Linked DNA regions of Homo sapiens. The protein of the gene in region 1 interacts with the protein of each later gene in a pairwise test. Each region holds a gene or a part of one and is shown on either strand. Other genes may lie near its edges.

The links. Proteins that work in one complex are often made in the same cells at the same time.
Region 2: the proteins of SYK (region 1) and SH2D2A interact in binary tests that used the Homo sapiens proteins (3 or more experiments, as listed by UniProt).

Annotation. Positions count from the first base shown.
Region 1 is NC_000009.12:90,839,764-90,846,906, forward strand, and holds part of SYK (tyrosine-protein kinase SYK), read left to right. Parts: intron 1-4,094; 5' UTR 4,095-4,135; coding exon 4,136-4,552; intron 4,553-5,670; coding exon 5,671-5,831; intron 5,832-7,143. UniProt on the Homo sapiens protein: Non-receptor tyrosine kinase which mediates signal transduction downstream of a variety of transmembrane receptors including classical immunoreceptors like the B-cell receptor (BCR).
Region 2 is NC_000001.11:156,806,849-156,813,848, reverse strand, and holds part of SH2D2A (SH2 domain-containing protein 2A), read left to right. Parts: coding exon 1-1; intron 2-4,041; coding exon 4,042-4,188; intron 4,189-4,358; coding exon 4,359-4,646; coding exon of another isoform or gene 4,647-4,712; exon of another isoform or gene 4,713-6,503; coding exon 6,504-6,671; 3' UTR 6,672-6,674; exon of another isoform or gene 6,675-7,000. UniProt on the Homo sapiens protein: Could be a T-cell-specific adapter protein involved in the control of T-cell activation. May play a role in the CD4-p56-LCK-dependent signal transduction pathway. Could also play an important role in normal and pathological angiogenesis.

The sequences.
Region 1 (7,143 bases):
ACACAAGCATCGGGGCCAGGTACACAGTGACAGGGGTATTTGAGCTGGGTCTGTAAGGATGACTGAGATGGCTGGGAGGAAGAGCTGCACGCCTCAGCAGAAAGCACACGTGGTGAGAACAAGAAGGGAAAGCCACAGCATCCCGGTGCAGTCCAGTGTGGTCTGTGGACTGGGCATGTTGGAATAGGCAGGAAGGGCTGATGTGCGCTTTGAGGGAGGACCGGGCAGCTGGAGAGGGAGGCGTCAGGAAGCAGGAGGGCAGAAGGTGAGGAGTGAAGGGCAGCAGTGGAAAGGACAGGGTTACGCCAAGCAGTGGTCATGGATATGGGCAGTAAGGAACATGCACCAAGGGCGCCTGGAAAACGAACCTTAGAGAACGCAAGTCCTGCGGAGGACTCCTGGGTTCCTGGCTGGGACACCGCCTGGGCAGGGAAGGCAGAGAAGATGGAGAACCTGGTCTCAGGTGGCATCAGAACCCAGCATCCGCATCACCAGGATTGCAGGAGCAGCAGCGTCTCAGGCCCTGGGTGTGTCAGAGCCCCCAGGCCACGTGGAAGTATGAGACGTGCTGGGCTGCAGGGGAAACAATGGAAATGAGGTTGGAGGCCCGAGAAGACCCACTGCAGGAAAAGGGTGGAGTGGGGGAAAAGCAGGCTGGGGGCAGTGGCTGGCCTGCAACAAAAGCATTGTAGAATGCAGGCGTGAGCCACCGCGCCCGGCCAAGGCGGGCAGATCATGAGGTCAGGAGATCGCGACCATCCTGGCTAATGCGGTGAAACCCCGTCTCTTCTAAAAAAAAAAAAAAAAAAAAAACTGTAGAAAGGGGAAAGCAGTCCAAAGAGAAGTATTTCTTCCAAGAGACTCATCAGCACACTGTGTTTCCAGAGATGTCTTTCTGTTAACAGCATTCTTAGACTCAAAAGTAAATGTAGATATACTTTAAAAAACAAAAACACCTTGCTAAGAGATGAATTTTTAGAAACTTGTTGGACAAAGAAAAGTCATTGATAGTCAACTGCTGTGAGAGGCAAGCCAGGAAATGATGATTAATACCCTCAAATTATAATAAAACCCATGCCTCATTAGGGGCTCGCCCAGGAGTACTGACTTGTGGATAGACACCGTCTGGGGAAAACTCTGTCGCCTGTGTCAGGCTGATGCTCTTACATTTTATAGCCCCTTGTAGGATAGTGCATGTTGAGAAGAAGCCGCTTCACATCATCGTGGTGCAGGATCTGTGGTGTGGTGTGCTTCATGTGTGTGTTTTGTGTGTGTAGTGTGTATGTAGTGTAGTGTTAGTTGTGTGTACTATGGTGTGTGTGTGGCATGTATGTAGTTTGTGTGTGGTGTGTGTGCAGTGTGTGTGATGTGTGTAGTGTGCATGTAGTGATGTGGTGTGGTTTGTGTGTGTTTTTATGTGTAGTGTGTAGTATGTGTGTTGCATGTAGTGTGTTGTGTGTCGTGTGTATGTAGTTTGTGTGTGTGGTGTGTTTGCAGTGTGTGTGGGTGTGTACTGTGTTATGTGTGTAATGTGTATGTAGTTTGTGTGCTGCACGTAGTGTGTTGTGTGTACTGTGTATGTAGTTTGTGTATACTGTGTGTAGTATGTGTGCAGTGTGTGTGTAGTTTGTGTATGACGTGTGCAGTGTGTGTAAGATGTGTGTAGTGTGTTGTGTGTGTAGTGTGTATGTAGTTTGTGTGTGTGTGGTGTGCGTTTAGTGCATGTGTGGTATGTGTCCATATGTGTGGCATGCATGTAGTGGGCATGTAGTATGGGGGTGTATGTGTGTGGTGTAGTGTGTGTGATGTGTGTAGTGTGCATGTAGTTGTGTGGTGTGTTTCGTGTGTGTTTTGTGTGTGTAGTGTGTATGTAGTGTAGCATGTGTTTAGTATGGTGTGTGGTGTGTATGTAGTTTGTGTGTGATATGTGTGTAGTATGTGTGATGTGTGTAGTGTGTACTGTGTGTGGTGTGTATGTATTTTGTGTGTGTGGTGTATGTGATGTGTGTAGTACATGGTGTGTGTAGTGTGTTATGTGTGTAGTGTGTTGTATGTGGTGTGTATGTAGTTTGTGTGTTGTGTGTGCAGTGTGTTATGTGTGTTGTGTGTGTAGTGTGTATGTAGTCTGTGGTGTGTGTGATGTGGGTAGTGTCCGTGTAGTACATGGTGTGTGTAGTGTGTGTGGTGTGTGTAGTGTGTTGTATGTGGAGTGTATGTAGTTTTTGTGTGTTGTGTGTGCAGTGTGTGATATGTGTAGTGTGTTGTGTGTGTGGTGTACGTGTAGTTGGTGTGTGTGATGTGTGTAGTGTCCATGTAGTACATGGTGTGTGTAGTGTGTGTAGTGTGTTGTATGTGGTATGTATGTAATTTGTGTTGTGTGTGCAGTGTGTGTTGTTTGTAGTGTGTTGTGTGTGTGGTGTGTATGTAGTTTGTGTGTGTGGTGTGTGTGTGATGTGCATAGTGTGCGTGTAGTGCATGGTGTGTGTGTAGTGCAGCTGTGGCATGTGTTCGTAGTGTGTGTGGCATGCATGTAGTGTCCATGTGGTATGGAGTGTGTGTGTGTGGTGTAGTGTATGTGATGTGTGTGGTGTGTGGTGTACCGTATGTGATGTGTGTAGTGCGCATGTAGTCATGTGGTGTGTTTCATGTGTGTTTTGTGTGTATGTAACGTAGAATTTGGTGTGTGCGGTGTGTTTCATGTGTGTGGTGTGTATGTAGTTTGTGTGTATGTGTATGTGTGTGGGGTAGTGTGTGTGATGTGTGTTGTGTGCATGCAGTGGTGTGTTTCATGTCTGTTTTGTGTGTGTAGCATGTATGTAGTGTAGCATGTGATGTGTGTAGTGTGTTTCGTGTGTGTGGTATGTATGTAGTTTGTGTGTTTGGTGTGTGTGATGTGCATAGTGTGCATGTAGTACATGGTGTGTGTGTAGTGCAGGTGTGGCATGTGTTCATAGTGTGTGTGGCATGCATGTAGTGTGCATGTGGTATGGAGAGAGTGTGTGTGTGTGTGTGTGTGTGTGTGTGTGTGTGTGTGTACCATGAGGGACATGCGCTTTGCTCCCTGGATAAATGGATGGAGTCATGTAGATAATTTTCCATTCACGACCAGCCCCTTTTGGTTAAAATGTGCCTCCTTGGATACTTTTGGGGCTGGCAATATGTATCCTTCTAGTTTACAACCATGATTGAGAGGGAATACTCTCCATGTTAAATATGCATTGGCCGCCTTTCTTTTTGCTTCTGAAATGTATTTATTTACTGCAAGCAGTGTCTCTCCTGTGTCAGATGTCCTCGTGGGCTGGGAACCGGCACTATCTCTTTAGCACGGGCCCTGCAGATGGGAAGTGGCGTTGCCCAGGAAGTGGTCTGGAGAAGCGGGGAGAAGACAGCCTATGGGCCCCAGGCCTCGGGAGCCAGGGAGGGTGTCACTCTTCATGTCTCAGGCAGTGGCTTGTTGCTATCATAGCCCCGGGCTGGAGGTGGGAAGGCCTTATGGTGACCACAAGTCACAGTTCCGTGTGGGCCCTCAACGTGGCCTCACTTCACCTCTGGGGCTCAGCACCAGCGTGTGACTGACTGCTCGAGGCAGCGTCTCGCAGCTCAGGTGGGTGAGGTGGTGGTAGCGTCCTCCTTGGTAATATCACTGTGATGAGGAGCAAGGCTTCTCTAACATTGTCTGGACTCAGGAGGAGCAGTTGGTTTGTTCTCATGTAGATTCTGCCTCCTGTATGCTGCTGGGACCCTGAGGGTCAGCCCAAGAGTCCTGTTTTGCAATAGCCCTTCTGTTTGCTTCTCTTTGCGGTATGTTTATTTTTAGAATTCTTTGTCTTTCCCCACTCCCCCCAAAAAAGAATTATTTAATTTGGTCACTTCCATCAAATGCTCTGATTTTAGCTTAGTTAGAAGGCATGCTGAAAACTGTAATGATGATGTGAACAGAAAGACAACTGTGTGTTGGGAGGGCCAAAGAGGGAAGTGCCTTTGTTCAGAGATGGGAGGGTTTGTCTCCACTTTGAAAGGGTTTGAGTGGTTTTAGCAAACGTTCCCTGCCACGTGGGGTCCTCACCAAAGTTCTCTGTCTCTGTCTTGCCCAGGTGGACACCTGCGCAGGTGTGTGCCCTCCGGCCCCTGAAGCATGGCCAGCAGCGGCATGGCTGACAGCGCCAACCACCTGCCCTTCTTTTTCGGCAACATCACCCGGGAGGAGGCAGAAGATTACCTGGTCCAGGGGGGCATGAGTGATGGGCTTTATTTGCTGCGCCAGAGCCGCAACTACCTGGGTGGCTTCGCCCTGTCCGTGGCCCACGGGAGGAAGGCACACCACTACACCATCGAGCGGGAGCTGAATGGCACCTACGCCATCGCCGGTGGCAGGACCCATGCCAGCCCCGCCGACCTCTGCCACTACCACTCCCAGGAGTCTGATGGCCTGGTCTGCCTCCTCAAGAAGCCCTTCAACCGGCCCCAAGGGGTGCAGCCCAAGACTGGGCCCTTTGAGGATTTGAAGGAAAACCTCATCAGGGAATATGTGAAGCAGACATGGAACCTGCAGGTGGGCCACAGCTGGTCCTGCTCCCTGGGCCCAGGGGGCCCTGTGACCCCACACAGACTTCCTGGCTACATGCAACACATGTGCCTATGTGCCCTGTGTGCCCAAATAACACAACCATCTCCTTAAGCATCAATTTTGGCCAAAAAATGCCTCTCTCTGATAAGAGCCTTTCCTCTTTCACAGCCACAGCTGAGAGGGTGGGTCCCTTTGTGCCAGCAGTGTGGGTTTCTCCACAGCAGGGAACCACTGTTACCCAGTGCAAGGAGGGCCTTTTCAGAGAGGCATTGATAGGTGTTGATTGGTTTCTGTTTATCTGACAAGGTCCTACCATACACACTGATAGGCACTTGATTTTATGGCTTCCTAATATCTCTTGCAGAACTTTCTGTGTCAACACTCATATAGTTGCATCACCCGTTCTTTGGCTATCTGGTATCACCTGCTATGCACCACAATTTATTTAACTAGTACCTATTGATGGACACATTTGCTGTTTATGAATAAACGCTGCTAACAACATTGCTCTAGACCTATCGTATACTACACTTGTATGCAACGTCTGCAGGATAAACTTTGAAAGGGTTGGGATTGCCACAGCAAAGGATATGTGTGTTTATTTTTTTATTTTTTATTTTTTTGAGACAGAGTCTTGCTCTGTCACCCAGGCTGGAGTGCAGTGGCATGATCTCAGCTCAATGCAACCTCTGGCTCCAAGGTTCAAGCGATTCTACTGCCTCAGCCTCCCAAGTAGCTGGGATTACAGGCATGTGCCACCACACCTGGCTAATTTTTGTATTTTTAGTAGAGATGGGGTTTCACCATGCTGGCCAGGCTGGTCTCGAACTCCTGACCTCAAGTGAACCATCCTCCTTGGCCTCCCAAAATACTGGGATTATAAGCGTGAGCCACCGTGCCCGGCCATGTTATTTTTATTTATACACTTGAAAGTACTTAAGTAATGTGTAAAGGTCTTTCTGGTTTTATTTACTGAATGAATGAGTGAATAAGTTTTGATCCTGTTTTACCATGCCAGGACTCGAGATAGATTGGAAATGCCTTCTGCATCATTTTCATTTTTCCTCGGTATGGTTTACTCTGCTTTGCTCTCCATGTGGCAGGGTCAGGCTCTGGAGCAGGCCATCATCAGTCAGAAGCCTCAGCTGGAGAAGCTGATCGCTACCACAGCCCATGAAAAAATGCCTTGGTTCCATGGAAAAATCTCTCGGGAAGAATCTGAGCAAATTGTCCTGATAGGATCAAAGACAAATGGAAAGTTCCTGTGAGTATCGTGCCTTCCCCCTCACCTCCTGCCACCAGGCCTGTGTGGACAATTGGGAATAATTCAGCTTCCTTGTGACTGGCCCCACATGACCCTGGGAAGAGGCCATGCATTGCCATTTGACAACATGCATGCTGGCCTGTTCTAAAGACATTTCTAACCAAAGCTATCACTTGTGACCCAGTGTTTATTTTGCCCAGTCTAACTCTAAAATGAACACTCTTTTTGGGCACCGAGGGATGTAATATTTAAAGAAAATGTGATTCAGCCCCATATTCTCCTTTTAATGGCAAATTATAGGTTGCATAGCACATTCTGTGGTTATCCAACTAAAATTAAAATACTGCAGTTTTTTTACTCAAACTACCCCCTTGATCTCAGACTTTACTTCTATTTTACATGAAACAAGATGCCAACAGGAAAGATGTTAAGGAAAAGTTCCTGGGAGTAGCATCCATGAGTGGTGAGTGCAGGTTTGAAGACTTCAGCCTTAGGCCCACAGTCATTAGAGGGTCTGTCTGAATCCTGGGTTCTGTTTGCTATCCTCAGTGGTTCAGTGTAAATCTAAATTGTAGAAGGTTCTGAGATACAGGCCAACGTGGTCAGTCAGTTGTCCAGAGAAGGTAAAGAACTGTCTTTGGGAGGTGTCAACCTTGTTCCCTCGAGGGGGTCTGGTCAAGGTGGCTCAGTGGGGCAGTTGTCCCTGGGGGAAATGATCCCCTGGTCACCTCTCAGTGTCCCTACAGAGATGCTTACCTTGGAAACATAACCAGAAACAGCGATGCAGCCTCATGGTTTGGCAATTGGTGAATCCCCAGCCGACTTCGTAAACTTTTCCTAGATTTAGAAGCGTTTTCTCTGCCTGTCCATCTATTCAAAGGAATTTCCTCAGACTTCACTGTCATACCTTGTATTTTAAAAATGATCTTAGCTGAGTGCAGTGGCACGCACCTGTAGTCCCAGCTACTCCTGGCAGGAGGATCGCTTCATCCTCACTATGATCTCACTATCGTTTGAGGCTAGTTTGAGACCAGCCTGGGCAACATAGTGAGGCCCTGTCTCAAAAAAAGAAAAAAAGAAAAGAAAAATTGACCACAATACTCTTAAAAAAAAAAAAAAAAAAGGAAGAAGGAAGAGTGGCCCAGGTTGCCACGCGGCAGTGCCTAGAGTGATGGTCTTTAGTGGGATGCAGCCCCAGCCAGCAGCAGAATGCTGTGGGGAGGGAAGACATTGCCCCTCAGTGGAGGCACCTATGGCTATTTTTGCTGAGGTTTGGCTTCTTACCATCTCAGCAATAATTTCCAACATGAAT
Region 2 (7,000 bases), on another chromosome or scaffold:
GGTACGCGCCCCAGACCCTGACCAGAGAGCCCAGGGTCTCGGGCCAGCGCCCCTCCCGCTCAGAGCCCAGGCGCAGGACGCGGCACCAGGCACTTTCTCATCCCGAAACACCACTCGGGCATGCCTCCCTTACCCAGGCATCTTCATCTTCATGGGAGGGTGGCAGGCCCTTCGAGAAATATGAGTGCTGGGGGACCGTCCTTAAGAGACCAGCCCAGCCACACGGAGTCAGAGGGGCAAGGAGAGGCCAGGGGCACACAGAGTCATTTGGGGTTTTGTTTTTTGTTTTCTTTTGCTTTGTTTTAGACAGAGTCTCGCTCTGTCGCGCAGGCTGGAGTGCAGTGGCGCGATCTTCTCTCCCTGCAAACTCCACCTCCCGGGTTCAAGTGATTCTCCTGCCTCAGCCTCCTGAGTCAGCTTCCCCCCTCTAGGCCCCATTATCCTCCTATCCCTAAGGCCTCGAATGCTGGTATTTTCCACCTGGTATTTTCAGCTTTGACTTCTGAAATCTGGAAGTCCAACTACTTACTTTCCCATCCCTGTTGCTGCAGTAGCAGCCCCTGCAGGCTGCCCTTCCAGGATGAGGCCAGGGGAGGATGCGGGGGTCTCCTGAATGGGACCCCTGAGTAGCTGGGATTACAGGCGTGAGCCACTGCGCCCAGCCTAGTCATTTGTTTTTTAATGTAAGAGATACTTACGGAGTACTTAGGGCCTACCAACTGCTGGCAGGCCCTGAGAACAGACCCATGAACAAGACAGACAGATGGATCTCAAACTCACAAAGCCTACTTTCCAGCAGCAAAAACAGACAAGTAATAGAAATCCAGGGTGGAGACTGTGATTCAAGAAGAAATACAGGGTACCATTTAGCCTAGCAGGCAGCGGTGCACAAGTTCAGGCAGTGCTGAGGGACCACTGTGTGCCACGCAACTTTCTGCGCACTGGAAAAACAGGAGTGAATGTAAATGACCTGAATATCTCTGCCTTCAAGAGCTTCCATTCTAGAAGGAGGAGACAGACGAGTGAGTAATATGGATAACAAGCAAAGAAGACAGAGTCTGTCTAGTAATGATGAGTACACACTGACAAGAAAACCAAAGAGCTCCACCAGCAGCTCCACCTTCCAAGCAGACCCAGCCTCCACCCTCCTCATGCCTCCTGGAGGCACCTGCCTCTGCTACACTGGCCCAGGCTGCCATCATTTCATGTGAAATATTGTTGAAGAGTGACAGGATTGGGGCTGTTCTACACAGGGTGTCAGGGAAGGCCACTCGGGTAAGCGGACATCTGAATAGAGGCCTGTATGAAATAGGAGAAGAGCCATGCAGACAACTGGAGGAAAAGCATTCTCGGCAGCAGGCACAGCAGGTGCAAAGGCCCTGAGGCAGGAGGAGACTTGGTGTGTCTGAGGAATGATGGGAGCAGAGAGGAAGTTAGCATGGGTGGATCCGGTGACTGAGGGATAGAGAGGTAGGAGATGAGATCAGAGGGGTGAGGGAGGGGGGCCCTGTAGACTCTTGTATGCATTTGAAGTTTTATTCTGAGCGAGACGAGGTGGCACTGGAGACTTACAAGCTGAGGGGTGACATGGCCTGGCAAGTTTCGGGAGGAGCAATATTTCACATGAAATGATGGCAGCCTGGGTCAGGGTAGCAGAGGTGGGTGCCTCCAGGAGGCATGAGGAGGGTGGAAGTCTCCTCAGAAGGTGGAGCTGCTGGGTTTTTGTGGGATTGGATGAGGAGTGTGAAAAGATGGACTTGTCATTGACTGAGTTGAGAAAAGTTCTAGGAGGAACACATCCAGGCAGGAGGCAGGTGATCAGGAGTTCTGTTTTCTACACGTGCAGTTCAGCATGGAGATGTCAAGTAGGCAGCTGGAATTCAGAGTCTGGGGACTGGGACAAAGGGATGGGCTGCAGACAAATATTGAGAGTCACCAGCACTTAGATGGACTCTAAAACCTTTAGGAGGGGAGAAATCTCACTCGGAAGTCAGTGTAGGTGGGAAGGAAATGAAGCCCAGGTCTCCAGCATTTAGAGTTTGCAGAAATGAGGGGGAACTGACAAAGAAAACAGAGCAGAGCGCTCAGAAAGAGGAGAAAAGCCAGAAGAGTGTGATGCTCTGGAAGCCAAGCGAAGAAAGTGAGTGAAGGCGGGTGAGGGCAGAGGGTGGAATTGATACTAGGTTTGACAGAGAGGAGGTCATTGGTGACCTAGACAAGAAGAGTTTCACAGAACTTGATTTGGGTCAGTTAAAACAAGTGGGGACAGTGCCTGTGGTCACTGCCTTTTCTGTGAGGAACAGGCAGAGACCTGAGATTCACAGGGCGTAGGGAAGTCTGGGGGTGAGGAGGAGCCAGCCTGACCTGAGAAGCCTGAAGGCAGAGCTGTAGAAGTCTGAGATCACACAGAGTCTTGTCACTCAAGCTCTCAGGAGTCTGACTTATTCTGGGGCAATGGGCTGCCACCCAAGGATTGCTAGGGGAGTTTCTGTAAGATTGCTCTGCTCGAAGACTGGAGAGTGGATTGGAAGGGCAAGACGATGCAGGGGGAGGAGTCAGGAGGCCTGAACTAGGGTGCTGGCCATGTGCATGGAGAAAAGTACTCAGATGTGAACGATATTTAGACAGTGGAAGGAGCAGGACTTGTGTTTGATTTCATGTCAAGAGGGAGGAGGTGGAGGCATCAAGGATGACTCCTAAGGTGCTGTTTCGGCAGCAGGGTGGAGGTGCTACTTTTTATTCCGGAAGGAGATGCTGAGAGAGGAGGGGGTTAGGGCAGGAAAAAGAATTCTTTGATTTCCACAGTATATCTGCAGTACACCTCCCGATGGAGACATGCACTTGGTGGATTGCAGGAGCACAAGAAAAGCCCTGTGACCTTAGCCTACAGTGGCAGCAGGCATGGGGACAGCATTCATGGACCAAGGGCTAACACGGAGCTAAAAGCAGACCCTCTGTGAGACGGAACCATCCCACATGGGGCTCCTCTCTCCTGAGGTGGTCTCTGCCCTTAAAAATGTTAGCTTATGGCCGGGCGCAGTGGCTCACACCTGTAATCCCAGCACTTTGGGAGGCCAAAGTGGCGGATCACCTGAGATCAGGATTTCGAGACCAGCCTGGCCAACGTGGCAAAACTCCATCTCTACTAAAAAATACAAACATTAGCTGGGTGTGGTGGTGGGCGCCTGTAATCTTAGCTACTTGGGAGGCTGAGGCAGGAGAATGTCTTGAACCCAGGAGGCGGAGGTTGCAGTGAGCCGAGATTGCGCCACTGCACTCCAGCCTGGATGACAGAATGAGACTTGGTCTCAAAAAAAAAAAAATAGCTTATATTTCCATAAAGTAACCGGCAGTACAGAAATAAACACAAGCACAGCTGTCATGGAGATTGGTCCCCATGTCAATAATTTTTCAGTTAAAGACGTGTAAAGCCATGTTGCATTTTCAGAACCACAGGCACAAATGGAATCTGGCCTGGCCCTGTGTTCCAGAAGAAATTAAGTTTAATGCAGCCAAGTGTGGTGGCTTACGCCTGTAATCCTAAGACGCAAGAAGGCTGAGGTGGGAGGATCACTTGAACCCAAGAGTTCAAGACCAAGCCTGGGCAACATAGTGAGACCTCATCTCTACAAGAAATGAAAACACAATTAGCCGGTGTGGTGGCACATGCCTGTAGTCCCAGCTACTTGGGAGGCTGAGGCAAGAGGATAGCTTGAGCCCAGGAGGTCAAGGCTGCAGTGAGCTGAGACTGCACCACCACACTTCAGCCTGGGCAACAGAGTGAGACTCTATCTTAAAAAAGAAAAACTTTAATGCTAGATATGGCCTGTGACCAGAGCTTACCACTGCCTCCATCCAACCCTGGGTCTCCCTGCCGTCACCACCCCCTCTTCCTCATCCAGGGAACCCAGCCCAGGCCAAATTTCTGTGCTCCTCCCCCTTCCCCCATCCTCCACTTAGACTGGATTATTTTGTCCTCCTGATCACCTCCCCCACCCCAACGCTCCACCGAGTGCCTCAGACCTCCTTCTTTCCCAGCAGACTCCTGAGCCTGCAGGACTTTCCCTGAGGACCGAAGAATCAAACTTTGGAAGCAAAAGCCAGGACCCAAACCCCCAGTACAGCCCAATCATCAAACAGGGGCAAGCCCCAGTCCCGATGCAGAAAGAGGGGGCCGGGGAGAAGGAGGTATTGGGCTGCAGGGGCTGAGGGAGTGGGAGGACAGGCCTGCGAGGGGGTGCAGGCAGCGGGGAGGAGGAGGGGCCTAGCGGGGGCAGAGGCTCAGGCTGGGAGTTAGGCTGGGGCTTTAACCCTGCCTCCCTCACCCCACTCCTCCCTGGCCTCACCTTCTCTCCCAGCCCTCCCAGCTGCTCAGGCCCAAGCCTCCCATCCCCGCCAAACCTCAGCTGCCCCCAGAAGTCTACACAATCCCTGTTCCACGACACCGCCCGGCCCCACGCCCCAAGCCCTCCAATCCTATCTACAATGAGCCTGATGAACCCATAGCTTTCTATGCCATGGGCCGGGGCAGCCCTGGGGAAGCCCCCAGCAACATCTATGTGGAAGTGGAAGATGAGGGCCTACCCGCCACCCTTGGGCACCCTGTCCTACGGAAGAGCTGGTCCAGGCCTGTCCCAGGAGGCCAGGTAAATGGGTATGCAGGGAAAGGTAGGTGCAAGAAGGTCTCCCTGCAGGTAGATGGGGGAAGGTGAAGAAGGTGTTCAGAGTGGATGCCTGGGGCAGGGTAAGGGGCAGAGGTGTGAGGTGATGTGGGAAGAACAGAATGATCCAGGCACCAGCCTCCCTTCTCCAGGCCCAGAGGCTGCCCCCTCTTCTCCCCAGAGTCGCTCAGACCTCATCTTTGTCAAGCCCCCATGCCCTCCTATCTCACACAGAAAACAGAGGCCCCCAGGCAGGGTGCCCCTCCACCTCCCACATCGAGGCTTTTTTGATCTGCGTCCATCTTGTCCTGCAGGCCCTCTTCAGACGCACCTGGGGCTGACCCCACCCCGTGCCTCTCTGGCTCTCTCCCTTGGCCTTCACGGCCCTGCTGTCCTGGAGAAAAAGAGCACTTGGGTTCCCTTATGTCATCTCAGTGAGCTCAGGGGAGGGGGACCCTGCTCTCCCAGCCTGCTTCTGTGTACTCCCTGTCTCCCTCTTCCTTCTCCCCAGCCCTAAGTCTTCTTGCCTACCCTTCAAGTCAGTACCTCATGCCATGGGTTAGCCCCAGCAGCCATCCCACCCTCTCCCTCGGCCTCTGCGGCCCTCCCAAAGCCCTTCCCCAGCCTCCCTCCTCAGACCCTTCCCCATCCTCCCTCCTTGCTGGTGCCCCAGGCTCCCTGCTCAGCCTGAGCCTGCTCGCGCTCACCCACACCCCTGCCAACGTCTGCTGTCCTAGAGCTAACGTCACCTGTCCATATCTCCGTCCAAACTTTTTTCCAAGCTTCTGGTCAGTTCCCCCCAGCATCCCTGAGCCCCTCAAACTCAACACGGCCAACAGCGCTCTCACCCTTGCCCTCCAAACAGCTCGGTCCCATGTTCACTGTCCTGATTGCTAACTCTCCAGCTACCCAGCTAGCCAAGCCAGAATCCCAGGGCTCCCTCAGCACAGCTCCCTCTTTACTCCCCCAGTAAGCCACTCATTCCTGCTGGATCTCTTCCTAAGTATATTTTTCCTTCCCCCAGCTCCAGCCCCCATCATTGGGGTCTGGCTTTGTCACCCAGGCTGGAGTGCAGTGGCACAATCATAGCTCACTGCAAACTTGAACTCCTGGGTGCAAGTGATCCTCCCACCTCAGCTGAGATTACAGGCTCGAGCCACCTCACCTGGCTCCCAAGAGCTTCTTAACTGGTTTCCTAACCACCATTCTTGCCACTTCTGATCCACTCTGCACCAAAGAGCCAGAATGGTCTTGCTGAAGCAGCTGCCTGGCCCATGAAGCACTCTAGACTTGGGTTGGGTGGGGGGTCTCACCTCCTTAGCCTTACCACCAGCCACTCCCATTCTCCTAGAATGATTCACATTTCTCTAAACTCACCAAGTGGTTTCAAGCCTCCTGGGGTTTGCACCCGCCAGTATCTCTGCCTATAGCAACTTCCTGCAACCTCATCCTCCCGCTGCCTGGCAACTTTCTAATCATCCTTCAAGACCAGCTTTCCCTTCTCAGAGGCCACCCCCTGTGCCTTACACACACCTGCCATGCCACTGATCACCTGAGACATCCATCTCCTCCCATCTCCTTCTCTCTGTCCCTTCCCTAGTTTAGAGTGTGAGTTCCCTGAAGGGAGGGGCTGGGACTTACCCATCTGTTTCCAAAGCACCCAGCCCAGTGCCTGGCACAGAGCAGGTGCTCAGGAGATGTTTGTTGAATTAATGAATGAGAGGAGTTTAGATACCCTCTCTGGAAGCCAAAGTCTGTTCAGATCAGATGTCTTGAGACTGCAAGTACACCTAGGAGGCAGAGGGTAGAGGGTGTGACCTAGAACTGTCCTTCTCTCTGCAGAATACAGGTGGCTCCCAGCTGCATTCTGAGAACTCTGTGATTGGGCAAGGCCCTCCCCTGCCCCACCAGCCCCCACCCGCCTGGAGACACACCCTCCCCCACAATCTTTCTAGACAGGTGCTTCAGGACAGAGGACAGGCATGGCTTCCCCTTGGGCCTCCTCAGTAGGCGGTAAGTCTGAGCTTGGTGAGGATAACTTGGAGCATCAGGTCCAGAGACCTTCACACACACCTGGCACACTTCTCAAGAAATGTGGATGGAATAAACCATAGGTGTTCAAAGCTGGAAAGGAGCTCAGCCATCATCTATTGCAAGGATGGCAAAGAGGTGTCATCTTGCATGCCAACTCCAATCCATTGGTCGTGGCTGCCTAGAGTGCTGCATTGGAAAGGATGTTAAGGTCATATCTGAACTCAGCAGAAAAAAAGCACATGATTGATTAGTGATGTCTGCCACGGGTAAGAGCGGGAGGATGAGCAGCATTACATTTGTCCTTA